5 separate regions of the Homo sapiens genome follow, and regions 1, 2, 4 and 5 are each reported to be linked to region 3. Evidence: microRNA targets listed by miRTarBase, many of them from high-throughput screens and not tested one by one. Region 3 holds a microRNA gene; each other region holds the end of a gene's coding sequence.

The links. Region 3 holds the annotated microRNA hsa-miR-4270 (UCAGGGAGUCAGGGGAGGGC, at 3,092-3,111, opposite strand). A microRNA usually pairs through its seed, bases 2 to 8, with sites in the 3' UTR of a target mRNA and lowers its output. Matches are read on the target gene's strand: a 7mer-m8 pairs with bases 2 to 8, a 7mer-A1 pairs with bases 2 to 7 and ends in A, and an 8mer does both.
Region 1: the mRNA of TSPAN11 is a reported target of hsa-miR-4270. Seed matches in the 3' UTR shown: 7mer-m8 at 3,494-3,500, 7mer-m8 at 2,838-2,844 and 7mer-A1 at 1,630-1,636.
Region 2: miRTarBase lists SV2B as a target of hsa-miR-4270. Seed matches in the 3' UTR shown: 7mer-A1 at 5,477-5,483.
Region 4: miRTarBase lists MED7 as a target of hsa-miR-4270. The part of its 3' UTR that is shown has no 7-base or 8-base seed match.
Region 5: miRTarBase lists KRT80 as a target of hsa-miR-4270. Seed matches in the 3' UTR shown: 7mer-m8 at 3,325-3,331, 7mer-m8 at 3,390-3,396 and 7mer-m8 at 3,973-3,979.

What each region holds. Positions count from the first base shown.
Region 1 is chr12:30,990,055-30,996,130 of GRCh38, reverse strand. TSPAN11 (tetraspanin 11) reads right to left here. Exons shown (of 8, transcript NM_001370302.1): 8 at 1-4,275. The coding sequence ends at 4,216. The region is part of intron 2 of TSPAN11-AS1 (TSPAN11 antisense RNA 1); the gene reads left to right. Among named protein-coding and RNA genes, the nearest start is that of TSPAN11-AS1, 13 kb to the left of the region's middle.
Region 2 is chr15:91,290,204-91,296,279 of GRCh38, forward strand. SV2B (synaptic vesicle glycoprotein 2B) reads left to right here. Exons shown (of 13, transcript NM_001323032.3): 13 at 2,166-6,076. The coding sequence ends at 2,349. Among named protein-coding and RNA genes, the nearest start is that of CRAT37, 170 kb to the right of the region's middle. RefSeq lists an enhancer at 1,516-1,810.
Region 3 is chr3:15,493,188-15,499,263 of GRCh38, forward strand. MIR4270 (microRNA 4270) reads right to left here and starts at 3,121; the gene lies at 3,052-3,121. All of the region lies in intron 1 of COLQ (collagen like tail subunit of asymmetric acetylcholinesterase), which reads right to left.
Region 4 is chr5:157,133,242-157,139,001 of GRCh38, forward strand. It overlaps MED7 (mediator complex subunit 7), which reads right to left. Exons shown (of 2, transcript NM_004270.5): 2 at 4,183-5,760. The coding sequence ends at 5,489. Among named protein-coding and RNA genes, the nearest start is that of MED7, 6.7 kb to the right of the region's middle.
Region 5 is chr12:52,167,891-52,173,966 of GRCh38, reverse strand. It overlaps KRT80 (keratin 80), which reads left to right. Exons shown (of 9, transcript NM_182507.3): 5 at 203-367; 6 at 804-929; 7 at 1,549-1,769; 8 at 2,254-2,309; 9 at 2,445-4,971. The coding sequence ends at 2,569. Among named protein-coding and RNA genes, the nearest start is that of KRT80, 21 kb to the left of the region's middle.

The sequences.
Region 1 (6,076 bases), not on the chromosome of region 3:
AAGAACTGCACAGACGCACAGCAGAGAGGCTTTCCTGGCTGGCCATGAGCTGACCATGGTGACACGCTTCACTCCTAGCCCCCAATGGTGGAGCGAGTCGGGAATCTCGGCTGCTGCAGGTGGAGCTCAGCTGGACAGCCTGAGGTACTCATGGACCCTGAGCGTTGTGACATGTAAAGGAGGGTGGCTGCATCTTCCTTTGGTGTTTGGTCTAAAGCAGTGGTTCTCAAAGTGTGGTTCCAGGGCCAGCAGCTGCAGCTCCTGGGAACTTGTCAGAAATGCAAATGATTGGTCTTGCCCACTCCTGATGAGAAATTCTGGGGGGTGGGGCCAGCAATCTGTTTGTAAAAGCCCTTCCAGGTGATTCTGATACTCACCGAAGTTTGAGAACGACTGGTTTAGACGCTTGGTCACTATACCCTCAGTGGATGTGAGCCCGGCCCAGCATGGCCAGTATATCAAGAATGTTTTCCAGGTGGGTGACAGGGTGGGTGGTGATGACAGTGACTGTCCCAACTCACTTCTCCAGCCTCAAAACCCTGAAGAGGGCCCAAGTAGCAGATTCTGAAACAAAGCTGGCTCCAAGGCAAGAGGGCCCCGAGGCACATCACAATGATCTACCATATTCCCCCCACACCCCACAGGGCCGTGCTGGGCCCTTCTGGATGTAAACACCTCTGGCCATGCACAGCACAAGCTCCCTGACAGAAATCACACAGGGTCCACCCCAGAGCCCCAGCAATAGCAGGTGCCCCATGCAGGGGGCTAGAAAGAAGGCAGAAAAGGGCCTCACCTGAAGGGGAGGTGGTCAACACAACCCCAGGGTGCCCCTCCCTGCCCAGGGTTGCTCTGGGAGTGGGTGTGACCTGAGGGGTGACCTCCATGTGGACATGAGATTCTGCACCCTGCATGAAGGCCCTGAGGGCTGAGGGACAGTCCCTGCTCTTGCTTTGGGGTCAGTGTTTGTACCTGGGGTGACGGGCTGGGTGGTCGTCACGGGCCTTAGCCCTTTGGGCTCTTGGCCACTGCCTGAGCCCCTGCACCCAGAGGGTCCAGCTGTCAGCCTGAAATAAGCCAGGCTTCTGCACCCCCGGCCCATGTGCCATGGGTGCTGCTTTGTGACAGTGCCCCCTGAGTGACACTCTGTTCCTTAATGACAGCCTGATGGCTCCTTATGGAGATGGAGAACTGGGGGACACTGAGGGGAGGGGTTCCCGGCCCAGTTTTCTTCCTTCTCCCCAGCTGGGGGTGGCAAGACAACAGCCATGACCACTGACAAGCAAGTCTTAACTTTGCCCAGCCTTAATTTCCTTTTATAAAATGGGGGAAATAACACCCTCTTGCTGGGGTAACTGCGAGATAAGTATTTATGGTGACAGATTCTAAGTGCACAGCAGGACCTTGGTAAACACAAAAAAATCCCTGGACACACTCCCCACTTACTCTGCCTGAGGGGCTCCTGGAGATGGGGCTAGGGTGCCGGGGAAGCAGGAGGGAGAAAGACAAGAACGGTCACAAATATTCCAACCCGTCAGCCAAGGCCACGTTTCATTCTTGCCTGCTGTCCTGACACAGGTCACCCAGGGGACTCGGGGACGCGCCCTTCTCTTGGTGTCTGCCCCTGCGAGCTCAGGGAAGGGCAGCATGGAGTGTGCAGGGCAAGAACGTGCCCGTGCCAGCTGGGTGGGATCCCAGCACCTGATGCTGCTTTCCTAGGGCCCTGGTGTGCAGGGGCCTTTTGCCTGCACGGGACTGAAGGTGACATTCCACAGGCGTGTCCTCTCTCTCCAAGGAACTCAAGGCTGTAGCAGCCTCCAAACAGGGGCCCGGGAGGAATTGACCTGGGTATGGATCTGTACCCTCGTCAGCAGGAGGGGCACACCCCGCTGGGGACCACATCGTTGGCTCTGGACTCCAACCATTGTACACTCCCAGGCAGAACCTGCCGTATCCTGGGCCTCTGTTTCCTCTAACCCTGTCTCATCTCCCAGGCTGTTGGCATGGACAAGGAGGTCAGATTTCCAAGCCCTGGGTTGTTCTACCACTGTCTGCCGCTTGGACAAGCCATCTTTCAAGAGGCAGTCTGGCTGGACGACACACAGGGCAGGAATTGCAGCTAATCCTGCCCCAGTCAGGCTGGACCAACCATCCCATGGGGCTGGGGCAGATGGGGCAGGCTGTCCTGGGCCTGCCTTCAATGATAAGGCTGTGCACAGGGCACCTGCCTGTCACCTGTCTTTCATCCCCACCAGGGCAGACAGGTAAGGCCCCAGCACCCCCTGCCCACTGCCGCCTCCCCCTGGCACCTCGGCAGGAAGAACATGGCTCTAGCCCAGTACCCTCTTTCTCTCTCTCACCACTCTCCCTCTGTCGTAAGAGTTGTCAGTTGTGATCTCATCCTTCAGAGAACTTGGGAGTCATAGTCAGTTTTTGATTATCTGCATGAATCCCAGGAGGTTGGAGGGCAGCAATGCTAATCACGCACTATACCATTTCTCTCGGCCTCTGTGCAGTCTGGGATATCTGGTCTTCGTTTTAATGAATTTGCATTGGCAACCCCAGGGCCTTTTAGGCAGGGGAGATAAACCAGCCTAGGCTCCAAGAAGCCACTGGAGAACACCCAGAGAAGAGGAGGCAACCGGCCCCGAGGCTGGGCTTCCCTCTGTCCATGTGGGTACTTCCTGTGCTGAGGATGCAGTTTCTGGACAGTTCAGGGCTCTGTTGGGGTCAGCACTGGGTGGCCTTGAGGCCACTCCTATGTATGGGAGAGAGAGCACGCCTGCCCCAGGACTGGCCTAGGTCAGCAATGTGCTCATCACAGTGCAATCTGGATCAAGCAGGGAGGTGAGCTGGGACCTCGCTCAGCCTTGGCCTTAGCACAAGGTGCCCCCCTTCATGGGGGGAAGTAAGAGGGTCCCGCTCTGGGGAGAAGTGCAGGAGCTGGGGAGGGTGGAAGCCAGGTGTGGGGTTCTTGTGTAGTGAATGGGCTGCCCCTTTGTAATAGCCATTTGGGGGGGTCCCTATGGGTGTTGTACAAAAAGCTGCCAGCATGGATACTCTGTATTTTCTAGGATTTTCTTTCTGTTCTCCCTTATTACTGGGGAAAGTTCTTCCTGAAAATTCCGCAAATTCCCTGCTGAACTTAGTGATGCAAGAGAGAACCCAAGGAAAAAGCTCTGTCCACTCTAGGACAGGTGGGAAGGGAAGCAGAGCTGGACCCCCTGGAAGCAGTGTGGTGGTGGCTACGGGGTCAAGGAGAGGGCCCCAGGAAAAGTGAGGTTCAGGCAGATGCCCCTCTATTCAGAGCTGCCCCTTCTCAGCAGCTCCGACTTTGCAGGGTTGCGAGTTGGTCCACTCCAGGAGATGTTTGACACCCATCAACATTAGGTGCTGAAGATGGTCTGAAACCTGGTGTTCCTGAGAATCAGGCCCCGGAACAGGAGATTCCCGAGGGGCGTATCACTAGAGGCCAGGGCTTGGGGCCATGGTCTCCCAGGGAGGTTTCTCCCAGGAAGGCAGCTAGGCAGGTGCAGGGCTCTGCTCCTAGTGCAGCATGTGCTGGTATGGCCACCTTACCCCCTGCTTCCTGCCAGGGCGGCTCTACCCAGCCTGTGGCTGCCCTACCCAGGCCTCCCCACTCCTAGGCCCTTCAGGAAGGAATGAGGCCAGCAGGACATGGCTTTCCAGGTGAGGCAGTGTGGAGAGTGGGCAGGTCAAAGGGCAAGGTCTTCTGGGGGAAATGCCAGCCCTCCCTGCCCCACCCCATGCTTTTTCCAGAAACAGCAAGGTCAGGGCTTCTGGGCATGGGTGGGGGAATCCCGTGCTGAATGCAGGAGTGCCGGGGTTCCTGGGTTTTCTGCCGATTGTTCCAGGTTCAGGAGCTGGGAGGGAGCAGAGAACCCAACCGCCACCCTCCCGTAGTCCACGGGTGCCCCCGTTCCTGGTGAGGGGCTCTGGTTGTCTCCTGAAAGGATCATTTCCCTGCCCAGGATCTGGCCATGGGGGCTCAGAAATGGAGGAGAGGGGGCCGAGGGTCTCTGCCTGGGTGGGCACAGAAGCTATGGTCTCAGGCACTCGGTGGATTCGCAGGAGCTAGGCACAAAGGAGGGGGCATCTATGGCCCTAGTGGAGCTGGTGCTAACTCTGCAGGCCTTGCAGATGGCATGTGGCCACATGTTGTCTTGAGGGGCAGTTGGAAGAGGAGGTGGTTGGCCATTAGTAAAAATGCCGCTGGAGCCTCTGGTGCAAGCAGCAGGTGAGAACCATCCCGCAGATCTGCCAGGTGGAGAGAGCAGAGGAGCAAAGAGAAATCAGAACTCCTGGAAGCTGCCGGCCCTCAGGGCCCTGGAGCAGTGCTGCTCACTCGAATACCCTGGGGCCTGGGCAAAGGGCAGATTCCTGCTCAAAACTGCTCAAAATGTCAGGGTGGGACCTGAGGTTCTGCATTTCTGACAAGCTCCCAGGTGATGGTGGTGTGCCTGGGGGAACCACATTCTGCCATCTACTATCCAAGAGCAGGGCTTTGCACACTTTAATGGGCATGAATCATCTGGGGACCTCCTTATTACAATTCTTCAGGCCTAGTGGCGGCCTGAGAGTCTGCATTCCTAGCAAGCTCCCAGTTGATGCTGCTGGTCTGTGGTCCTAGATCTTCTCCAGAGATGGCCTGATTTAATTAGGCCCTAAGAGTAATGTTTCCACTCCCTCATCAGAGCTGTCTGAAGTGGACTGTCTCTCTAGGAAAGAGTCTGCCTGTGTTTTGCTGTCCTTAGACTCTAGAGCAAAACTCAGGTCCATCTTCGATGCTCTGGCTGGTGTACAGGAGCCATGGGGGAAACTGAGACTCTGGGAAGAGCCTCCTGAGCTGTCACCCTGTCAGTCAGCATAGAATAAGAGCTGGTGAGCTCACCCTGTCAATCAGTGTAGAATGCAGCACCAAGCTCAGGCCCCAGGCGTCCTGTCTGCCAGCCCTTCTGTCGGTATCCACAGCTGAACAAGGGGCTGGAGCATCTGGTCCAAAGCAGACACAGGCCTGGGAGGATCACCCTGCACACCGCCTTCTCACTTCTCCCACTTCCAGAATGCAGAGGAGCTTTATTCTCCCTCCTTGCTCTTCATGGGCCCTCCTCTGCCTTCTTCCTCCTCTTCCTCTCCTCCCTCCCACCCAAGGATGCATTGAGGGTAATGTGATTATGATCCTGATAATGATGATGACATGTTGTTGGATCTTGGCTCTCTGCACACAGGAGGGGGCACTGGGCTAAAGCAGCCCCATGACTGTCCCGTGATACCTGGGGTGAAGGTGGCTCTCCTAAGTATTGAAACAGTGTCCTGACTTTCCTAGCAGCTGCTGCTGCCCTGACCTTGCCGGTGCAAACCTGGATGCAGGTGGAGCTCTATCCAGTGGGAGGAGAGCAGGCTGGTGGAGATGCGTGTGTCCTGTACTGTCTCTGACAGCTAGCTGGGGGAGGTAGTGTGGAAGGGGCCCATCCTCTTCCCCTCCTTCCTCCTCTCCATCCCTCCCAACCTGGAGGACAGCGTGGAGTGTGAACACTGCTTTCAGCCTGCAGACTTGGTGTTAATCCACCTGGGGCCTCAGGCTGAAAGGCGGCTTAGGAGGTTATCTCATCTCCCGCTAGCTTTACGCAGGCGGCCGTCATGCCGTTCCACCCATGCAGGTTTCCCTACCTCATGGTTTGATGATTTTCCTGTGGGATTTTCTGGATCTTATCTGTGCTAAGAGGGAGGCCAGAAGGGAGCTGTTTGACCGGCACAGGTTTGTGCTGGAAACCATGTCTGCATCGCCTGCAATGTACGTCTCCTGCTGGGGGAGGACTGGAGGGGCCACACTCCCCAGCAGACAGGCTCCTGCGTGAGCTGGGTGTTCCCAGCGAGCCTCCCAGGACAGGCACAGTAAGGGGCAGAGGTGTGTGGGCCAGACCCTCATCACTGCGTCCACATGCACACACACACACTTGCACACACACACACACGTGAACACCACGCTGAAGCATGTGGAGGGTACAGGATGCCACCCAGTCTGGTTCCTGAATAGGCATTGCCATCTCCCTCCTGA
Region 2 (6,076 bases), not on the chromosome of region 3:
TTGTTTTTCTTCGTGGAGGGGAATTGTAAAGTTTAAAGGAGAAGATAAGAGGCCCTGTGGTCAAAAAGGAATGTGAAGAGGTAAGGAAGGTGGGTAAATGAAATTCTGCAAAAACCTTAATGATATTTCCAAAATTGGCGACAGAGGTATTGGGATATAGATAACTAAGGAAGAGCACAACGTGTCATATTTGGAGCCCCTCTCATTTGAATCAAAGAACTGCTAAGTTTTACACAAAATAACAGGAGGACAAATGATTATTATTTGAATATGATGTGATTTTACATCTAGGAATCCTAAGAGAATTAACTTATGAGACCACTATAGACAAAAAGACAATGTGGTCAGGTGGTCAGTAATAAAACGAAATTATGTATAGGTTTTAAAATATATCGAAAAAGTTAAAGATGCAATTGATATCCATTTAATAATGGCAGACGTCATAAAATAATTAGGGATCAACTTGACAAGTGAAACACTCAAATGAAGAAAACCATAAAGCTTTACTAAGAGATATAAAAAAAGACACATAAGAGAAGATAAATATATGCCAACTCAGTGATTTGGGAGGCCGAGGCAAAAGGATTGCTTGAAGGCTGGAGTTCAAGATCAGCCTGGGCAATACAGTGAGACCCCTATCTCTACAGAATATATTAGACAATTAGCCAGGCATAGTGGCATGTGCCTGTAGTCCTAGCTGCTCAGGAGGCTGAGGGGGAGAGCTGCGAGAGCCCCGGGGTTTCAGGGTTACAGTGAGCTAGGATCACAACACTGCACACCAACCTGGGTGACAGAGACAGACCCTGTCTCAGAAAATGTATATATTTATGGATTATATATTTATATATAATTATGATAATACATATAATTAATAACATATAATTAGTATACATTATTATATATAAATATATATATTTAAAAGACAAGATATACCTAATTTTGGATAAGAAGATTCAATCTTACAAAAACGTCAATTTTTATTTAGTTTTTTTTCTAACATAAAATAATTCATTCAAAATTCAACAAGTTTTTTTTCCCCTCTGGGAACTTGAAAAAAGTTTATTTAAAAAAGGACATATGTTAAAAGATCCAAGAAAATACAAAAACAAAGATACTAAGACAAACAAAAAAGACTGGGTTGATGAATATAAAGCTACAGTGTGGTACAGTTATAGACAAAAATGAAAGAAGAGTTTTAAGAACAAAAATATACCCACACTCTTAATAAACTTGTGGTATGAGAAAGAAACGCTTTATTTCAGTTGGGGAGAGGTAGCATTGGGAATATTGCCTCTGCATACAGATGGGGTCATGAAAGAATAAATGATTAGTAATAGTTCTCACTGGAAAGTGTGATTGAAAGATCATAATTAGGATTAGGTTTTGCTGTTGCTGACAGCAACCTCAGGTAACTGTGGTCTTAAGAAGGTTAAGCATTGCATTTTTCTTTCCTGAAAAAGTCTAGAGTGGGTGGTGCAGGCTCTTTCTATCTCATTGTTTTTCCTTGCATGGACTCATCATGGTCCAAAATGAAACCATCTGTGTTCCATCATGAAGCAGGATAGAAGGAAAAGAATGAAGGGGAACAGAGCAAAAGGCCCACCCGCAACGTCTCTTACGGAAGCTTCTTGGGAACTGCTGCCACTTGCACTTACATCCCATTGGCCAAAACTAAGTCACATGGCCATGCTCAGCAGCAAATCAGTCTGGGAAATGTAGTCCTACATTTGGGGAAATGCTGTTTGTGGGCAACTGGCAGTCTCTGCTTCAGGAGGGTTGAGAGTGTTAAAAGGGGGAACACTTACACTTTCTGCTTTGTATACTTCTTCATCCTTTCAAGATTTCCATAGTAAGCATGTAGTACCTATAAAAATGTTTTAAATAGATATCTTTGAAAAAAAAACAAAAAAGAAAAACACTTGAAGAAAATACTTCAAAATGTTAATAGAGGTGATTGTGTCTCGGTGAAGAGGTTAGATATCCATGCATCTTTATATTATTCTGTATTTCCAAATTTGACTACAATGAGAATGTGTTATTTTTATATTTAGGAAAAAAAACTCCCTTGCACCCTCTTCCCCCTGCAATAAGGAAAAGAAAGAGCCCAGTCCTGTTCATCTAATGTGGTTCAGAATGTCAGAATTATTTCCATTCCTCTTTTACAGAGCAACAGCCTTCGGCATTCTCAATGGATTATGCAAATTTGGCGCCATCCTGGGAAACACCATCTTTGCTTCTTTTGTTGGGATAACCAAAGTGGTCCCCATCCTTCTGGCTGCTGCTTCTCTGGTTGGGGGTGGCCTGATTGCCCTTCGACTGCCAGAGACTCGAGAACAGGTCCTGATGTGAACAACCTATGGGAAAAGGAAAGGTCGAGAGAATCTTGTCCAGGACACTGAAATGCATCCACACTTCCTGCCTATCACGGTCCGGAGGACACCTTGGATAGCACGGGAGGAGAAGTTGACTTTGTGACCCCTAGTTTAGGACCCACTTCAGCTGTCAATATGTTTGTAACTCAGGTGACTGATTTGGGGGTGCCCTGAGCCACCCTTAGAATCACAGAGCTGCGTGTTTAACTTCAAGTCTTCCCAGTCCAAGGCAGGGAGAGGATTCTCCAGTGAGTGCACACACTATGCGAGGAGCAAGCATTTCTCTAAGTCAAGTGCAAGGACTTAACTTGCGTTTGAAAAGGAATTAGAGGGTCAGAAACACCCAGGTTCCTCCAGAAAGCTCCTTGGAGCCCAACAACTTAACAAATCAACTTGGCTGGAAGTTAGAGTCATTATATGAAGATTGGGCTTGAAGTATATATTTTTGCATTTAAAAGTATCACCTATCATATTTTCCACTCGAAAATTGACATAGTAGCATTGAGGATACTCTGATCTAGAAAGCCAAGTATTTGAGCAACATCTATAGAGATCTACTTTTCTCCTATGTCTCCTAGGCTTTCCATGATAATTAGGTAATACATTTAAGAAGGATATTTATTTCTGTTTTGCTCTATTCAAAGAAACGGAATGGGATAGTTATTCTGTAAACTAAGTTTGTATATAACTTTATTTGGGTTTAATTTCCACAACTGGTATCTGCAAATATTGCCAGCATTTTAGCCATATTTTGGGAGAACTTGGTGTTTGAGGTCCCAGGAAATGAGGTCTGATCAAATGAAATGCAAGCACAATTTCTTACAGCCATTTAACTTTCTGTTGGGAGGATGAATTAACAAACTCACATTGTGCAGTCTGCTTAATCCAGGCACTTTTCTTTGTGCAGGTGTAGTGAGTAGTTACTTCTCTCCCTTACACAGATGACTTGTGAAACTCAAGCTCACCATCTTCAGTGCTGGCATTTTACTTTGCCACTACCCAAAAACAATGTGAGATGTGTTCAGTGGCCTCTGGTACTCTTTGCAGGCAAGAATCAAACAACATGGGGACTGAGGGAAGGATGGGGAAGTGTAGCCACAGTTCTTCCAAATGTAAATACTTTTTGTTTGTTCTAGTGGTAAAATGCAAATGCAATCCATATTTGTTAGGATGGTCAGGTCTCATGAGAAATCTATGCTATGTGTCCAGAGCTTTTGAAACAGAGTCCATTGGAGTGGGAGTTAGGGAGTGTAGTGGATGCCAAATATGTTTTTCTTCAGTGCTTAAGAGAACTGTTTCCTGAAGTCCAGCTTTGAACATAAACAGGGGTGTGGGTTGGGGGAGGAGCTTAGGACAAACCTCTCTGATGAAGGTCAGCAATAGACTGAAGTCTTGACTGCATGGAAGAGGAAAAACATCAGAACTGTCTGACAATGGAGGGGACAGTGAGCTACGCACAACTGCCAGCGGAGGTGAACTTGCACCTGCCCAGGCCGGATGAACATCAGCCTGCAAGAACTAGTTGTTTGAGTTGATTTGCAGTGCTCTCAATGGGCAAGTGCCACATTTTCCCTGGCAGAGATCTCCAAAAATTTAAAACAGAATAATAATGGCTATATCGAGTGTTTTCTCAGTATTGGAGAAATGCTTAGGTCCTATGATAGCTTCGGGACATCTTTCTGTAATTTTCCTCAATTAACGGGTTGGTAGGGGTAAATCTTATGACACCTTTCCACCGTCGATTTGAGATCAGTTTTAATGGTTAAAATGTTTACTCTCCTTCTGTCAACCCTCACCTTTTTATTTACACCCCTCCCTTTTTTTCTGTACAGGGAGAGAAGACATATTGACTCTGACTGGACACCCTGATTCCTCCAAATATATATACCACTGTGTATTAATCTTTCTCTCAGTGTTTTATAGGAGTACTAACATTTATTGCTCTGTCAATAATGAAAGGCTCGATGTAATATAGCTGTAATTTACTTTCCATATGAATACAGTGGCTAGGTTCATAAAAGAGAATTGTGTGAGTCTGGGATTACCACATCTAAAACATTATTCTTTAATGGGATAATACAATTCATTGAGCAGCTACCACTTAAAAAACTTGCAGGACAGTTAGAGCCTGCATTTCTAGTTAAGATGGATCTTGTAAATTTAAAATTGGATTAACATTGGAGTGCTGGGGTGGCTGCAATAATTTGGGGGCTAACTCCATTTGGTTTCCAAGATCTCACTTCTGCATTATCTTTATGGCTCTTTAAACCAGCCACCTAGCCAATCAAGGGCAATTCCCATCTCATCCATCACTCAGGTCTTTGTAAAGGGTGCAGCCAAGCTCTGCAGACTTTTGCAGGATTGTCTAGCCTGAGTACCGGGCTACTTCTTAAATGCCGTCACTCCTGCTGAGATAAATGCGTCTTTAAAAATAGTCTCTGTGGCAGGTCACTGGGGGACAATGTACAGCATTCTGGCCATCCACTTCTTTTTCACTTCATGTTCTACCCCAAGAGACTCCCGATGTCGGCTGTGGAGGGTTAAAGGGATGAGGCTTTCCTTTGTTTAGCAAATCTGTTCACAGTTCTTGATGATGTATTTTATGATGCCCAGCTTGGAAATAGTTGCTTTCCATAGTCTCAACTGTATTGTGTCATCTCCTGATGCTGATTTTTGATCTTTTGTTTTATTAAAAATAATTAGTGAAAGAGGTGTGCCTATCTGTGAAGTTTGTAGTACATCATCCTGAGGTCATGTAACAAGTAAACCCCAACCCAGCGTTCCCTCCTACGTTGTGTTAGTTCATTAAAACTAAATAATAAAAATAACTGTAAGAAAACCTTAAGGACTGGGGTTAGAGATTATTTTCAGGCACTAAGGTCTCTTCTGTATTCCAAAATTGATTGAATCAGCTGGGAGAAACATTGAGAATCGCTTCCTTCAACTTTTATTTTGCAACATGGGGACCTTGAGAGGTTAAACGATGTGGCCCAGATTACATGTAATGTGAGGAGTGGGCGAGAAGGCCTAAGGTGATGCTCTCATGACAGTTCTGGGGAAGCCTGCAGTTTGGGGAATGGGACAATGTGACAAATACTCGCCATTCCCTGAGACCATTCATTGACTATTCCCTTGATGGCTTTACTATAATGAGAGGAAGCATCAGTTTAAACATAAAAAGATTAGTATTTATCCATCCATTTATTCATTCAGCAAATCCTTATTGAGCCCTGACCATGGGCCAGTCTCTCTGCCAAGCCCTGGGGACACAGTGATGAAAAAACTGGCCACAGTTTCTGCTTCCTGCCTCATTCCACTTGCAGTGAGCGGATATTAAATTGGCCATAAACACCGAGTACGATGACCTTACAATCCGCAAACTGCACCTTTCATGTGTAAAAGGATTGCTACTACTTTACTTGTCAGCTGTGGATTTCCAAATGTGGTGGCTCCCTCTTATTTTTTTTTCTTTGAGGAGTGTACCAATTTTTTATCTTTATAAACCAGGTAAGGGAAATGATGCCCTTGCCCATTTTCTACAGACCTAATCGATTTTTACCTAATCAGTTTTACAGAAAGGGTTACATGGAAGAAGAGATAGGGGCCAGGAATGCAAGAGGGACATTGGTGAGTGGGGTAAGAATCCCCGTAGCCCTGGGAAAGGTGTCTCCACTTCCACATCTGGCTTTTCTAGGGGGCATCTG
Region 3 (6,076 bases):
CCTTGAAGGGCTAGCTGGGGAGGTGGCTGATGGAAGGAGGGGAGGCTCCCCAGGGAGCGGGAGGAATGGCAGGAGAAAGACCCATGTTCCATTCAGGGCTACTTGGATTGTGAGAAGCAGAGCTTCACTCACATGGGCTCTGGGGAAAAAGGAGATTTATTGTAAAGTTAACAACTGTCAGAAAGAGCTGGAGCCAATGAGTCAATGGGACATGACACTGTCCTGGTATTTCTCTCACCTTCCTCGATCCCCTGTCCCCCATCTCCCCTTTTATGCTTCTTTCTGTGCATCTGATCCATTCCATCCTCTTTGGCGTCTTCACGCCCATCTCTCCATGACGGCTGACCCAGTCTTGCCTCACCTCTTTTACCTCCCCCATCTGCTTTGTCTGGAACATCCCCTTGTGGGTCTTAGTTCAAATAGCCACCACAGGGAATCTGTTTGCCCAGCCAGGTGACAGGTCATGGGGGCAGCTAAGCAGAGCCTGCCCTGGACCAGACTCAGACCCAGTCTTTAGCAGGATCTCAGGGTCTGTCACCAGCTCAACAGAGGCTGTGGGAGGAGTTTCTCCTGAGGAAGGCCAGGCAGACAGGCACTCCAAAATATGTCAAACAGGCTAGGCGTGGTGGCTCACGCCTGTAATCCCAACACTTTGGGAGGCTGAGGTGGGCAGATCACTTGAGGTCAGGAGTTCAAGACCAGCCTGACCAAATGGCGAAACCCCGTGTCTACTAAAAACACAAAAATTTGCTGGCCGTGGTGGCACATGCTTGTAATCCCAGCTACTTGGGAGGCTGAGGCAGGAGAATTGCTTGAACTTGGGAGGCAGAGGTTTCAGTGAGCCGAGATTGTGCCATTGCACTGAAGAGGAAGCTCTTATCTTAAAGGAATAGTGACTGTTGGGGTCAGGATGCAGGGAAAGCTGGAAAGTTAATTTGGGGCTAGATTGTGCTGTTTTGGATACCCCACAAAAGGGTTTAGGCTTTAATTGGAAAGTCGTAGGAAACCACGGCAGGTGCAGGGTAAAGGAGTGACAGGATCAAAATGGTGCTGGAGAACACTGTGTGCAAGGAAGGTGCAGGTGTGGGGAGGACAGGCTTGGAGAATGGGAGCATGCAGCAGGGCACGGGACAGGAAGGGAGGGACTGATGCAGAGAAACGGGGCCAACATGTTGCAGGAGGGAAGAAGCAGGAAGAATCAAGGGTGGTTTTGAAGTTGCAGGGTACCCAGGGCAACAGTGGTCAGAGTTTGAGAAAGAAAAGTCACAGCAGGCACTAGTTTATGGGTGTTAGACATTTATTCATTTGAGCACACTCTTTGCCAGGCACTGGGCCAGGCCTGTGGGAAGCAGAAAGTACCTAAATGGCATCTGTAGTTGGAAAGGCTTGCAGAGCTCAGAGGCCTTCTGCTTGTACCCCACTCCCTGCCCTCCCACAAGCAGCCTCCACTAGATGCCGTCTCCACCAGGAAGCTTTCCTTGACTTCCCAGGCAAGATTGAGTGGCCCTGCTGTTTTTCTCTGGGTTTACCCCTATGTTAGGTTTCCTCCATGGGGAAAAACTATTTCCTTGTATCCCTCTGACCAAACTGTGCTTTCTGGGAGAGCAGGAGCCAGCTTTTATCCCCAGGGTCTAGCACTGTATCTGGCATATGCTAGACACTCCACAAACGTTTGCTGAATTAATAATGACAAACACCACATGCAAGGCACCATTTAAGTGATTCACACATAGAAATTCACCTAATCCTCACAGCAACCCTAAGAGCTAGGTACTACTCTTGTTATCATCATCTCCATTTTACAGATCCATTAACTGAGGCAAAGAGGTTAAGCAATTTGTCCGAAGTCATATAGCTAGTAAGTGACAGAGCCAGGCAGTCTGGTTCCGGAGCCCTTCCTCTTGAGCTCTACACCATGACTGCATGTGGTAGAAATGAAGGTCTGGAGCTTCAAGTCCCATAACAACAACTTGGGGCTATAGCATCAGTGCCCTCCAAGCAAAGGCTTCAGGGAACCAAGCTGGGTTTATTGACTCACTGCAAAGAGGGAGAACACACACCGGAAGGAACCGTGGGGCATCTCAGTTAGAGGATGCTGGGAAGGACTGATCCTAGGGTTGGGGATTTTGCTAAGTGATGGAGGGGAGACTGAGGAAATGAAGTCTGGCTTCACTCTGAATTGGATGCCATCAGGAAGAAAGGGCCATTCTATAATTGAGTACCTTAATTCATATCTAGAAGAGAGTGGAGCAAGACCAAAGCTGTGATTGGTTTTTTAAACAGCAGCAATCACTCATATTAGCAAGGATAGGAGAATGTTTAGTTACTTTTGTGGTTGGATGATAGTCCTGTTTTCGTCTGTGTTCAGTTGTGATTATCAAGTGATTCTTACTTTCTTCTCAATCCATCAAGGTCACAGGGTGACCCTGTCTGAAGTTGGTGTTCTGTGACATCGCTTCTGTGTTGCAAAACACCATGCCGAGCTCTGAGAGTCAGGGCAGCTCCAGCTGTCACGGGCTACTTTTCTCAGTGGTAAAATAATATGGATACATTGTTCCCGAACTTGACATTAATGCCAATGTATTCCTCCTCAAGCTTCTCCAAGTTTCCTAGAGTGTTGAGTCGCTAGGAGTGGGCAGCTTCAGTTGTAGGGTGGAGGAGGCTGGCAGGTTCACACCAATCCCGGAACGTTTTTAAGGTCCCCTGGCTACAGTTTCTCCTTTGCTTCTCTTTTGCCTCAGCACACAGCTAAGGGCTGAGGCTGCAGTGTTCCAAAAGCACCTGGGAGGCTGGCAGGCCCACACTGCTAATATGCACTCATCACCATTATTTTTCCAGACCATATATGGCCTCCAGTGCCTTCCTTCACCCAGCACCCTGTGTGGCCTTCCACTGATGAAGGACCTTGTATCATTTAAAGCAATCACTTCTCTCCTTTCTTCCTGGAAATTGGAGACCTCTTCAGTGACCACAAATTATCAGCTGCATTTCTGGCTGAGGCTTCTGCATTGTTCGGCTCCCCCACCCCATCCCCCTCACCCTTTCCCCCTTGACCCACTTTCTTCCCAGCAGGGGAAGGCCATCTATTTCTGCCCTCCCCTGACTCCCTGAAGCTATTTGTTTTTAGGAGCCTAGTTTATTTACAGCTCATTCCTGTTCAGAATATTTCCATCAGGTGGACGTGTTTGGGAGCAGCTTCCCCCTCCCTCCTCCCTCCCAGTCAACTAAGCCAGGACTTCACATGTCTATTTTGGTGTCATCCGAGTGGCCTGTGGGTCTTTCTCATGGACTGTCTCTATAGAATTGTGTCTGAGCTCAGGCTCCAGTCTGGAAAAGCCCCGGAAGGCTCTGTTGTATTGAAAGCAATCCTGTGCGTATCTCCGTGGAGCCTGCAGAAACCTGGGAGCAGCACGTGGCTCAGCACCAGGCAGCTGCCTTGGAAATGCCAACCATCACGGAACTTCAGGACCGCATGTCCCAACTTAAAGACATCAAGCTCATGTTGTATGTGGCCAGTGCATTGCCAAATTATGGGTAATTGTTTAATGCAGGCTTTGGCAAGTGTTTGAAGCTTTTGTTGTCGATGATGCTGGTTTTGCCCTTTGGACTCAATACCCATTCTTGAAAAGGAGACTTTCTCTTGTTTCATTTCAAGAAACTGAGGCACATCTTTGGAAAGCGATTTTCTCCAATTTACTCTTGGAAAGACATGGATTTGATTAAAGAGTGTTAAGTCTAGGTGCAAGTGGCCATGTGAGCCAGTACAACTCACTTACTCAATCTGAAACTTAGTTTCCTCATCTGTACCACAAAGAGTTTTGCCCAAATCATCTCCAAAGTCCTTTTGCCTTTTTTTTTTTTTTTTTTTTTTTTTGAGACGAAGTCTCACTCTATTGCCCAGGCTGGAGTGCAGTGGTGGGTTCTCAGCCCACTGCAACCTCCGCCTCCAGGGTTCAAGCCACTCTCATGCCTCAGTCTCCTGAGCAGCTGGGATTACAGGCGAGTGCCACCATGCCTGGCTAATTTTTGTATTTTTACTAGAGATGGGGTTTTGTCATGTTGGCCAGGCTGGTCTTGAACTCCTGACCTCAGGTGATCCGCCCACCTCAGCCTCTCAAAGTGTTGGGATTACAGGCATGAGCCACTGCACCTGGCCTCCTTTAGTCCCTTTTTAAAATAAGTATGACACCAGAACCACCACTGTATCCATCTTCATCTACCCTCTTGCAAGGCCAGCCCCACAATAGGTTACTGGAAATAGCCATTTCCATTTCTGCCTTCTGTTTTTCCATCAAGTAGCCTTCCCTCCCACCCCCTCAATCCAACAAATGTGTCATTAGAAACTGTCAAAGGAAAGAAGTGACATAAGCATCCTGCCTCAGCAGGTTGAGAGAATTACAAGTGCAGCCATTTAACTGTTCTGCACCTGCCTGTCCAGTTGGTGGACTAGTCAGCTTTTTACTTCCTCCTCCTCTTTTGGGGCCTTTCCCTGCCTGTGGGAACTTGCATGAGAGAGACAGACCCCAAAGAAGAGAGAAAGCCAAGGGCACACGCTGTATGGCAGCTCAGAGTGCTTTGACTTTATTGTAGTGAGTTGGGTCTCAGCTACAGTAAAGTTCTTACATTAACTGAATGCAATTTGCCCAAAATTCCCCCCAATTCACATGTTCCAGAGAAGGCTGCACCCTACAATTTTCCTTCAATCCCCACAACAAACCTTGAAAGACAAATTCTGATCCTAAAAGTTGCACGTAATTTGAACTTCTCTGAAAGAACATGGTAGAGTTTGCCTTCTGCTGTATGTCCCTGAGCAGGCAAGGATACAACCTACAAAGAACAATTTGTGGTTTGGTGGCTGTGCCTCTGAGCCAAATTACCCAAGGCAGTCCACTCAAGAGTGATGGAGACTGTCTCAGCCACCCAACGCCAGCGGGGGCCCAGACTACAGAACACGATTTTACTTCAAAGCCAAGGTACCAGCTGCCAGCCAAGGTACCAGCTGCCAGCACAAGGTACTTGTGTCAGTCAAGGTCACAAGAGGGACACAGACAAGTGCACACACCCGTTAGCATGTATGCCAGGTCCCCACCAACTCTACTGTGAAACCCCTTTGCATTGCAACTTCAACACTGGCTGAGCAGTTTAAAATTTAAAGGCTTTCACAATGAGAAACAGCCCTGTGAAAGAAAAACTTAAAAAGAAAAAAAATTTAAAGGCTGCTAAAACCTCCTAGTACAGTCTGCTTTCCAAGAGTCTTTTTTCCAAAACAATGCATGTGCATCCACACACACACACACACGTGCACACACGCACACACAACTCACCCAAGCAGCCTGCCGAGTAACAGAGCAGTCCTGAAATGATGAGCAGATGAGCGAGGCTGAATGATGAGCCCGTCATTGTGAGGCAGGGCCCAAAGCGGACTGGCCAGGGAACACTAGCCGGAGACAGGCTGAGATTCGTCACGCCTCTGAGTGCTCCCAGTGCCTGGCCTGTTTGGCATTAGGGGTGGGAGTTGGCCAATCCCTGCTTTGATGTTGCTTCTGCTCCAGATGCCAGGGGTCTGGAGCCAGTCCTGAGCTCCTGGGAGTAGCAATGGGTAGGCAGCCCTGCTCCAGCTGCCCATGAACACTGCTGTAGGGGAGGCTTGGAGGACAAGAGTGCCTTCAGCCCAGGGGAGGATATGAGGTTGGGAGCCCAGGGATACTTATCCCCCTGCAAGCCAAGAGGAAATTGAGAGCAATCAAACAGGCTGCTTTTCATTTGGCTCAAAAACCGACTTGACTCAAAATACCACAGCAGTATTGACTGCTCTGGTAAGCCTCAAAGTCAACCCCCCACCGAGACCGTCCAAGGGGAGCCTGCCCTCCTCTGCTTCAGGGAAGACCTTCATGGCCAGGGGTCTCAGCTCTAATCCTGTCTGGGCCAAAGTGTTGCTGACAAAGCTAAACGTAACTAAAACAACAACAACGAAACCACAAACAAACAAAATATATAGATTTCCAAAGGGCATGTAGGCAAGTCTTTTTGGATGAAGCGGCATATACCAGTTACATGCTTAAATCTATCTGGTACT
Region 4 (5,760 bases), not on the chromosome of region 3:
ACTTCCACATCTGAAATATGAGTGTAAAAAGAATACTGATTTCATTCAGTAGTTGTAAGGCTAAAATGACTTTATTTATACAAAGAGATTAAAACATTGCCAGCAACTTACAGCCATAAATACCATCAGATTTAGAAGGTTCTTCACAGGATTGTTCTAAGGATTAAATAAGAGAACAGCTACAAAGCACTTAGCACCATTTGCAGTACTTAGAAATCTATCAGAGTACAGCTAGTACCCTTCCTACTGATTCTCTGTATTTTAGTAAAATCTGATGAGAAATCAATTGCAAACATAATTTCTCATCAGATTTCAGATAAAAACCCAATTCCTTCCCTTGGTTCTCTAAATCATGCACATCTGTCCTCCACCTGCTTCTGAAGCTCCAACCTCCTCCCTCACCATATTGCAGCCATAGTAGCCTTTCTCATCCAAATTATGCCAACTTTCTATCTCCTCATGAGATATTTGCACCTGCCGTTCCCAGTAACCTCAGGGCTCAGTGCATGAGTTGAAGCTGCCTTTCTTTATGTTTTTGAGACATGGTCTCACTCTGTCACTCAAGCTGGAGTGCAGTGGCATGACTGTGGCTCACTGCAGCCTTGACCTCCTGGACTCCAGTGTCCCTTCTACTTCAGCCTCTGGAATGGCTGGAACCCGTCATGTGCCATCACATCCAGCGAATTTTTAAATATTTTTGTAGAGATGGGGTCTCCCTATGTTGCCCAGGCTGGTCTCGAACTCGTGGACTCAAGTGATACTCCTGCCTCAGTTTCTCAGTGATGGGATCACAAGTGTGAGTCACCGTGCCTAGCAAAGTTGCCTTCTAAATTCCTTAACAAATGTGAGGTTAGGCATGGTGGCTCACACCTGTAATCCCAGCACTTCGGGAGGCTGGAGGATTACTTGAGCTCAGGAGTTTGAAACCAACCTGGGCAACATAGTGAGACCTCATCTCTACTTAAAAAGAAAAAAAAAGTTTTAGGCCGGGCATGGTGGCTCACGCCTGTAATCCCAGCACTTTGGGAGGCCAAGGCAGGTGGATCACGAGGTCAGGAGATCGAGGCCATCCTGGTCAACATGGTGAAACCTCTTCTCTACTAAAAATACAAAACTTAGCTGGGCATGGTGGTGCACGCCTGTAGTCCCAGCTACTCGGGAGGCTGAGGCAGGAGAATCACTTGAACCAGGGAGTTGCAGGTTGCAGTGAGCCAAGATTGCGCCACTGCACTCCAGCCTGGTGACAGAGTGAGACTCCATCTCAAAAAAAAAAAAAAAGTTTTAAAAGACAAAAAAAAATGTACACATTCCTTGAAAAGGGAAGATAATGTGGACAAGGTGCTTTGAACAGGCAATAGGAACATAACTGGAAGCAAGATTCTTCTGAAGGTGCTGTAATGGCTGAGTGGTTAAGACACAAACTTATCACCTTCAAAAATTAACTCGTCTTATTATCTTTCTTACATTTTCCTTCGCCCTTCCCACACATCCAACAGTTAAACTAGTATCAGGCAGAGTGCAGACCACAGTAAGTATTCATCAAATGAATATCATGAATAAATGAATAGCTGGGGAAAAACTACTCTCATAAAGGGAATACAAATTTGTACAATCCGTTTATGTTTGTTATTTATATTAAGTTCACATGTGCCTGATTTGTAGTAGATCTCTCGTTATCGTTAGCTCAGCACCGCTTCCTTCCTCTGAGAGACAGACTGACTCTTCCATAAATAGACATAGCGGGGACTGTGAAATTCTTATGGGATCCAAGTCCCAGTTGATTTGCCCAGTTGCAATCAAGTATACAACCCCTAATTCCTCATGTCTAGCTCGTTAATTAACCTCCCCTCATTTTTTTTAAGTTTGCATTTGAGAGGGAACTCCCAGACAGTGGTAAACATAGAAATACTTAACCCTTAGGAACTGTCAGCTGCCATGTTCTCCACCTACATCATTAAAGAAGTTCATCTGTAAAGAGAATGAAGCTAACAGGAAAGATGGTCTCCAGGGCTACTAACTTAAAACTTCATCCACTTTCTGACCTTCTCATGGTTTATATATTCAACTTATCCTTCAATCAACATATCCCATATCCTTTCTTTTTTTAATTAAATTGTAAGAGAGAGAAGGTCTCACTATGTTGCCCCCATTGGTCTCAAATTCCTGAGCTCAAGTGATCCTCTCACATCAACCTCCCAAAGCACTAGGATTATAAGTGTGAGCCACCGTACCCAGCCCATACCCCATATCCTTTATATAAATTCATCTTTTTGCTTAAATTAGTTCAAGTAGGGTTTTTGTCAGCAGTAACAGAGCACTGATTAATGCAACATTCTGTAACCACTGCACAAGAGAATCATCTTCTGATTTCTTAAAACCAATGCTAGTACCCCAGTCCAAAAAATGAAATCAGAATCTCCGCAGTGTGGGACCTGGGCATTAGTCATTTCAAAAGCTGCTTAAAAAGGTGATCCTTCCAGATATTTCACTTCAATGAATCAATCTTTCAAGAATATTCATTATAAGTAGGTGTGCAGAGATATATTTTAACACAAGATTAAAAAGACCTTATATAAGGCCACTAGAGCTTTTTTTTCATTCCACTCTAATAGCAAGAGTTCATATCAGAACACTTTAGGAATTTATGTCAGGTCCTAGTCACAGACCTGCAAGATCAGATCCTCCCCAATGGCATTTTTTTTTCTAATTTGTTGTAGAGACACGGTCTCACTATGTTGCCTAGGCTAGTCTCAAACTCCTGACCTAAAACCATCCTCCTACCTCAGCCTCCCAAAGTGCTGGGATTACAGGCATAAGCCACTGTGCCTGGCCCCCCAGTGGCATTTTAATCCCTCAACGCCCCTCCCCCCAACACACACACGTTCATATATAAGTAGTGTTGTGGCTCTTATGTGATTCTGTTTTTTACATGCAAAGATTTTCAAAGTGGCCAAAAACTGGTTTTGCACCTCAACCCAACACCTTCCTCAAGGTTCTCAGAGTCAAAGAAAGAGAATTTTCTTTGGAGAGTTGTTCAAGTGCTAAGCAATTTCCACCTTTCTCCCTCACAAGGTGATGCTCCCTACTTCAATTTAAGCTTGAGAGCCTGAACTATGTCCTCTGGAGTCTCTGAGGCCCAAAGGTCTATACCAAACACATTACGTACCAGAAAAAAACAAAAGTTGAGACTAGCCAACCAACTGCCTATCTGATAAAGAAGTGTCTACCTAGGGATAACTTACAGTCCCTGGATCTGTGAAAGCACAGCATGCACATTTCATAGAGAACTGACCTATAGTCATACATATATACATACATACACATATATATATATATTTTAGACAGAGTTTTGCTGTCACCCAGGCTGGAGTGCAGTGGCACGATCTCGGCTCACTGCAACCTCCACCCCTTGGGTTCAAGGAATTCTCGTGCCTCAGCCTCCCGAGTAGCTGGGATTACAGGCGCCTGCCACTATGCCCGGCTAATTTTTGTATTTTTAGTACAGACGGGGTTTTGCCATGTTGGCCAGGCTGGTATCAAACTCCTGACCTCAAGCAATCCACCCACCTCAGCCTCCCAAAGTGCTAGGATTACAGGCATGAGCCACTGCGCCAGGCCCCTTATAATCATTTTAATGTGAACTTTGCTAGCTCTAGGACCAATGAAAGTTTAAGTGAGCAAATCCCTATGCTAGAAACCAGGGGCTAAGGAAGAAATAAAAAAGTAGACATCTGGGGAAAGGCATTGCCTCTCAATGGTTCTTTTTTGTTTTTGAGATGGAGTTTCGCTCTTGTTGCCTAGGCTGGAGTGCAATGGTGCAATCTCAGCTCACCACAACCTCTGCCTCCCAGATTCAAGTGATTCTCCCTGCCTCAGCCTCCCGAGTAGCTGGGATTACAGGCATGCGCCACCAAGCCCAGCTAATTTTGTATTTTAGTAGAGATGGGATTTCCCCATGTTGGTCAGGCTGGTCTCGAACTCCTGACTTCAGGTGATCCACCAGCCTCAGCCTCCCGAAGTGCTGGGATTACAGGAGTGGGCCACTGCACCCAGCCTCAATGTTTCTTAATCTTGAGCATGTATCATAATCACATAGGCTTCTTAAAATACAGCTTGCTGGGACCTACACCCAGAAGTTTCTGGTTCAAAAGGTCTGGGATGGAGCCAGAGAACCCTCATTTATTTTTTATTTTTCTGAACCTACGGATTATACTAAAACTTTTATTTCTAGTAAGTCCCCAAGTGATACCAATGCTGCTGGTCCAGGACCACACACTTTAAGAACCACGGGCCTACATTAAGAAAACGGCAGGCAGAGATCCTCAGACACAAGGTCAACTCTCCACTAACACCTTGGTGGAAGAGCAGATGGACAGTCGGGGGAAGAAGAGAAGAAAGTGCTCATATAAAGTCCAATTAGCTAGGGGCAGAGTGGAGTTACTGAAAGGAAGACTTAGTCCTCACGGTCATTCAAAGAACCAGACTGACAATCTTTGCCATCTTCGGTGGCTTCCAAACTTATCCTGGATACGACCGTCCAACCAGCAGCTGGGAGAAGAGAATGGAGGATCATGCAAGAAATGTTTATGGGGCAAGCCTGGATTCCTATGCCCACATTTCACCGCCTACGACTTAGTCATATGTTCTCACAGAGATGCTGGGAGTAGGGAAATGTCCCTGGCTGGATTGCCACATCTTGACAACATATCTTCAAAGAGCAAGAATCTTTGGTAGACACCTAGCAGTCTCTGCCATCAAACCCCTTTCCCATTGTGGACTTAAACAAGTCTGAGCTTAGCTTTAAAGAAAATGTATAGCTAATGACACAGACATCTTAATTACTAAAATTAATGTCTGTAACTTAAAGTGACCAAAGGACTTATTACCTGAGTGACTGGAAAAAAAAACAACAATTTATGGGACTTCCCTGCAAGAGTCCATTCAGGATAGGGAGAAAAGACTGAGCTAGTGGGTTTACAGAAGCAGTCATGAGGAAAAAATGAAGTTTCTATTTTATAACTCTACTGGGCTCCTCTCTATCAACATGTTATGCTACTTTTTGGAGCTTAAGCAAAATTTTTAATGGAATAAGTCTAAAGATTTCATAGTTTTACATGTAGAGAGCTTAATATCCATTTATCTATCATTCTTAAAGCAAATGCTAAATCCCCTTTTCAAAGACGAAAACTTTGCTATTATTGAGGTTATCATCAAAGTTTTACTGCAACTCTAAAACATAGGAATGTCCCATACAACAGCAGCTAACACTTTGCTTTTTAAAGTGATTCTTCTTAGTGCAGGGACACTCATTTGTCTATGCTTGTTATACAGCGAAATTACTGCCTATGACATCTCATAATTGAAAAATTTGGAGTCAAGATTAAAGCTGTTTACATTTTTAGTGAAACTTCTCTTAAGACTGTCCAAAAGAAAATGAACTAATATATGATGCTATTATCAAAAGGAAAAAAAGAAAAAGAAACATCTTTCATGGTCTTTCATTCATCTCATCAATTAGGACACACAAGGCAGCATCTTTCTCTATAATCTGATCTCTCCTATGACCTGAATTTTCTCTTTGATGTTCATTCTGTCCAGTACAATTGTTGCTATCATCAGCATCCATTGGTTCAGTTTTTACTCTCATTCCTGCTTCTGAATGAGGCAAATCATCAGGCAAAGAAGCCAAGCAATTCTGAATCATTTCAATTACTCGTTCCAGGTGCTTTTGAAATCTCTCAGCTGTTTCAAGCCGTTGAC
Region 5 (6,076 bases), not on the chromosome of region 3:
CAGTGGGCAGTGAGCTGCCTTCCGAGAGTCCTGGCTGGGGAGACGTGGCAGGGAGGCATTCGGCCTTCCATCATCTCTCCAGAGGGACAGGAAGGGAGCAGCTCCACTCTCCGCTCACCCCGGGGACAAAGTGACTGTGTGGGGCTGAGGGTCCTTGTGCCCTCCCCACCAGCCCTGAGCCCCCACATCTGTGCCCGGTCAGGAGCTGAAGGACCTGGCAGCACAGGTGAAGGATGTGTCGGTGACCGTCGGCATGGACAGCCGCTGCCACATCGACCTGAGCGGCATCGTGGAGGAGGTGAAGGCCCAGTATGACGCCGTCGCGGCTCGCAGCCTGGAGGAGGCCGAGGCATACTCTCGGAGCCAGGTGGGGCTGACCACACAGGGCACGAGAAGCAGCCTGGACAGTTCTCTGGGTGGCAGGAAGGGCTGGACTGGTGATGGCTGAGGTTGCCTGCAGCTCTCTGTCCTGAAAGTCTATGAGAGAGGAATGGAGAAGCACAGGGACGGGGCGGGCGGGGGGAGACCACAGAAGCTGGTCTGTGCCCTCCAGGAGTTCAAGGTGGTGCTGTTATCAGCAATGCTAGGCCAGATGTGGGCATGGCCCATGGGGCTCAGCTAGGGCAGCCAGGAGAGGCCACCCAGAAAGGGAGGTGGAAGGGGGAGCTGAGGGAGCCTGGCGTGGCGTGGTGGGCTGCAGAGTTGGAGATGGGACTGGAGGATGCAAGAAAAAGCAGAGGCGGGTAACAAGTGCTGGGAGCGGCACTGAGCTGCCCCTCACTGAGACCTCCATGTACCTCCAGCTGGAGGAGCAGGCCGCCCGCTCGGCCGAGTATGGGAGCAGCCTCCAGAGCAGCCGCAGCGAGATCGCGGATCTCAATGTGCGCATCCAGAAGCTGCGGTCCCAGATCCTCTCTGTCAAGAGCCATGTGAGTATCTGGGGGACGCGCCTGGGGGCGGGGAGGAGAGCAGGGAGACACACAGTCATGTGTGCTGAATACAGGCAAGACATGACTGAGTGACCCTGTGTGGGTCGCTTAGCGCCTCTGTGCCTCAGTTTCCTAATCTGTCAAATGGGATAATAGCACAGCCTCCTAAAGTAGTTATGAGGCGCTCTGCATACAAAAATACTCTGTAATCTGGTCAAGGCTGCTGGAACGTTAGAAAGCCCCCACACTACACACACCCAGAGCCCACTGCCTCCCTCCTGGGAACCCCCACCAACTACACAGAGAGGAGGGAGTAGAGGCCTAAGTCCCAGCTTCCAGCCAGGACAAACCTTCAGGGCAGGTGCTGCCCCATAAGGACAGCCGGGACAGGCTCCTTTAGTGGCTTGCGGTGCTTTCCTCTGGCCTTGGGAAGGTGCCTCTTCAGGTCTAACTGAACTCCCTCTTGCTGCATGGCAACCAGTTACCACACCCAGAAATGCCATTGCTCAGCCCTCCCTCCCCACACCTACCCCCACCAAGGACAGAGACGACTCCTGGCCCTGGCCCGCTCCTCCTTCCCCTGCTCACAGGCCCTTTCACTCTGTCCTCCTGGCTGCAGTGCCTGAAACTGGAGGAGAACATCAAGACAGCTGAGGAGCAGGGTGAGCTGGCCTTCCAGGATGCCAAGACCAAGCTGGCCCAGCTGGAGGCCGCCCTGCAGCAGGCCAAGCAGGACATGGCGCGGCAGCTGCGCAAGTACCAGGAGCTGATGAACGTCAAGCTGGCCCTGGACATCGAGATCGCCACCTACAGGAAGCTGGTGGAGGGCGAGGAGGGCAGGTGAGAGCCAGGGCTGGTGAGGAAGGGCTGCAGGGGAAGGAGGGCTGGAGGCCCAGGCCTACACAAAGTCAGTTCTCCTTTCCAATATGATACAGTGAGCCTACCAGGCCTGGGTTTAAGTCTTGGCTTAGTCACTTACAAACTGGGACCTTGGCCCAGTTCATTTCATCCTGTTTCCCCATCTGGAAAGTGGGCTGATCATAAACATGGTTCACCTGTGGCAGGGATGATTCATGTGATTATGCCTGCAAATGCCTGTCAAAACTCAGTGCTCAATGCTATTAGCCATTTATGCCATGGAGATGGGACAGAGGCCCAGGAAGGACAAGCTGGCTAGCCAGGGCCACACAACAGGGCAACCCCAGGGCTGGGAGTGACCACCAAGAACTACCCTCCACTTGCCAGCCCCCAGGGGAGTTTAAGCCACAGGCTCTCTTCGCATCCCATCATATCCCTCTCCCACCCCCCCGTCCCCCACCCCCAGGATGGACTCGCCCTCAGCCACTGTGGTCAGCGCTGTGCAGTCCAGGTGCAAAACCGGTGAGTCCTCTTGCCCCGAGAACCCATGGTGGGGTGAGGGTGAGGGTGTAGGGGATCATGATCCTAAAGGCATCATTTTAAGTGGCTCCCAAACCTCCAGCCCCTTCCCTCCCCTACCCCTTATGTTCCCTGTAGCTGCCTCCAGATCAGGCCTCTCCAAGGCCCCCTCCCGAAAGAAGAAGGGCAGCAAAGGCCCCGTGATCAAAATCACCGAAATGTCAGAGAAGTACTTCTCGCAGGAGTCGGAGGTCTCAGAGTAAGGCGGCTGGACCCCAGGAACCCCAGGGCACTCCACTGCAGCAGGAGGGACTTAAGCTAGACTCAAGAAAGCAGCTTGGAGCCTCTAGGTTGAGAAGAGAGGCAAAACCTGATATTGAACTGAGAGAGGGGTTCAAAACTGACTGTGTTTTGTGGGCTGCCAGGGTGGGAGAGGAGCATCACCAGCTCCTCAGAGCCACTCCGCTCCATATCAGTATCTCACAGTCCCATCCTTCCAACCTTCTGGCCAGAGGTTTTCCTGATGGGTGAGTCGGAATTAGGGGTCAGTTTTGTCTCCACCTCCTCGCTCCTCTGAGGCTCCTCCTCCAGCATCAGGCTCTGCCAAGGCCCCTCTGACTCTTGCCCAATCCTTGACCTTGACTCCTATCTCAAGCCTTGCCTTGTCTCTGCCTCGGAACTGGGACTGGGACTGGCTCATCCACCTATGTGCGGGAGCCGAGGAGGACGGCGTGGGCCCTGTCCTGTATCTGGAATTCCTGGGAAGGCTGGCTGCTGAAGACCCTCTTGGCTTTCCCGTGCTCTTTGGGCTCCCCAGAGACCTGACAGTATTAGGGAGTGAAGGGAGGAGGGGCCCTGGCTATTTGGGACCTAAGCCTAGGCCCCAGAGATCAGCCCGAACACCCGCATCCCTTCCTCCTCCCATGGGTCCCTCCCAGTAGGCAGTAGTCAGAACTGGATGGGCTGCCCCCAGCCAGCTCCCAGCAGCTTCTCCGGAAGCTGCTCTTGCCATAATCAACTCCCTGGGAGTGGAAGCCAGATGGCAGCTTGAGATTGGGCAGGAGCATTCGATCTTCCTTTCACCTCCCTGCCATGCTGGGGTCCTACCCAGCCTGGATCTGAGCTCTGTGCCCCCAGCCGGGTTGTTCCCAGCCTGAGCACCGGGCTTTGGTGCACCAGGCCTTGGAGACCCCTGGTCCCACCCCTGCCGTGAAGCCCCAGGCCCACTTCCCAAGAATCTCACTTCTCAGGGCCTCTGTTCTCCTCTCCACTGGGCCAAATAGCCTGGCCCTCCCCTCCTTGGCATTCATGGGGGAGCCCAGGAACCCCCCACACCTATGGGGTTAGAGCTCCTCCTTTCTTCTCACTCCTTCCCCTTCCTCCCTCCATGCCCACTCCCCCTGCCTCCAGCAGGCCAGGAAGAAGGCACAGTCCAGGCAAGTCTGGGAGCTTCCAAGCCCTTGAGGTCCAGCTGTGGGGCCCAAATGACAGCCTTACAAGGGTTCTACCAGAGAGGAAAATTCCACATCCCACCAGAAGACAGGGGTGTTGGCAGGCATACTCCTATCTCCTCCTCTTGGCTCTCAATGCTGAGGCTTGCAGAGGCATCCCAGCGGCACCAGCCTCCCACTGCACAGCTTCCTTCCCTCCTTCACTCTCCTCTCCCCTCCCTGCCCCTTGCCTCACCTCCTCTTCTAGACTGCATTAGATTCATTCATCTCATTTGCCAGGACATGTTGGCCAGAGGTCTGGGCCCATCCCAGGCCTCAAGGCCCTCCAGGCCTGTGGGGAGCACTGGAGGGTTACTGACTCTCTGGCCATGGGAACTCAGAGATTCTCATCCCCAAAGTCCCAAAAGAGGGTGCTGATTGGTGCTTTTCCTCAGGCTCTTCATTGGTTTCCAAGGGAGCAAATCCTCAGTGGGGATACAAGACATATAAAGTATATATTATTTTTTCATAACTTATGTGGCTTTTAACTTATTGCTTCCCTTCCTGTTTCTGCATGATCAGTCTGTATGTACTATCTGGAAAGATAACACATACTCCAGCCACCTCACCTGATTGGCTATCTTGGGGCCATGTCCCCTTCTTGCTGCCACAGGATGAATAAAGTGTTGAGATTTGTCTATGGAGAAAGCTGTGTGTCTGTTTTTATCTCCCCTCTCAGGACCAGTCAGCCACTGGTCAATCAGGCTGATCATGGAACATTAGGAATTCTCCAATTAAGGGAGAAAAAGTCCAGGGACTTAGTTATATCTTCAGACCAGTGCAGCTGGTACACACAAAGTTCTCCTGTCTCACCATCTGATATGGTTTGGATGCTCGTCCCCTCCAAATCTCATGTTGAAATGTAATTCCCAGTGTTGGAAGTGGAGCCTGGTGGGAAGTATTTGGATCATGAGAGAGGATCCTTCATGAATGGCTCAGCACCATCTCCTTGGTGATGAGTGAGTTCTCACTCAATTCACATAGATATGGTTGTTTAAAAGAGTCTGAGACCTCTCCCCTCTTTCTCGCCATGTGATATGCCTGCTCCCCCTTCACCTTCCGCCTTTACTGTAAGCTTCCTGAGGCCCTCACCAGAAGCTGAGCAAATGTTGGTGCCATGCCAGTACAGCCTGCAGAATTGTGAGCCAAAATAAATGTCTTTTCTTTATAAATTACCAAGTCTCAGGGATTTCTTTCTTTTGTGTATGTGTGTGTCTGTGTGTGTGTGTCTGTGTGTGTATGTGTGAGACAGAATCCTGCTCTGTCATCCAGGCTGGAGTGCAGTGGCTGGATCTCGGCTCACTGCAACCTCTGCCTCCCGGGTTCAGGCAATTTTCCTGCCTCAGCCTCCCGAGTAGCTGGGATTACAGGCACCCACCACCATCCCCGGCTAATCTTTTGTATTTTTAGTAGAGATGGGGTTTCACCATGTTGGTCAGGCTGGTCTCAAACTCCTGACCTCAAGTAATCTGCCCGCCTCGGCCTCCCAAAGTACTGGGATTACAGGTGTGAGCCACAGCGCCCAGCCAGGGGATTTCTTTATAGTGTGTTTAAGAACACACTATAAGCACAGCCAGGCCCCTGGGCTGACTAATACACTGTGCTGCACTGAGACTGCACCAACGTTGACCTATGTTCCCAGCGCCTCCTGACATATCCAGGCACCACACAGGCTGCTTTAGCCAGCACACATGCTGGGGATTCCCCAGTGGTGGCAGGGTTTCTTCTTAAGCACTTCTGCCCTACTGGGAATTGACACAGCCCAGAATGTATTCTGATGCGTACGGGCCCAATCCTGCCAAATCAAATCCCAAGTCAATGCATAAGGATTGAGGACCTTCTCCAAGCCCAGCCTTGTGCTAAGACTCCTCCAAGACAGGGGTCCACCCCTCAATCGCAAGTAGTTCACAGTCAGGCTGAGAGATGAGATATCCACCCAAGGTAGCCACCCTGGACTTCGTCACCACGTGCAGAAGTGGGTGCTATAAAGGTCAGGGAAGAGAAGGGCTTGTGGAGGGAATCAGAACAGGCTGCTTAGAAGAAGGGGGACTTTAAGTGAACACAAAGGATCTCAGTTAGGAGACAGACCAAAGCAGGAACAGGTGTCTGTCTCAAAGGAAAGGAATAGCGGGAAGGGACGTGGCAGCATTTGTGTCCTGGCCCACCCACTCACCAGCAAGGAGACTTTAGGCAAATAGAGCATCACTTTCCTCATCTGTAAAATGGGGCACACCTCTTCCCTACTTAACTCACGGGGTGCTTGGGCATTTGATGAGGTGG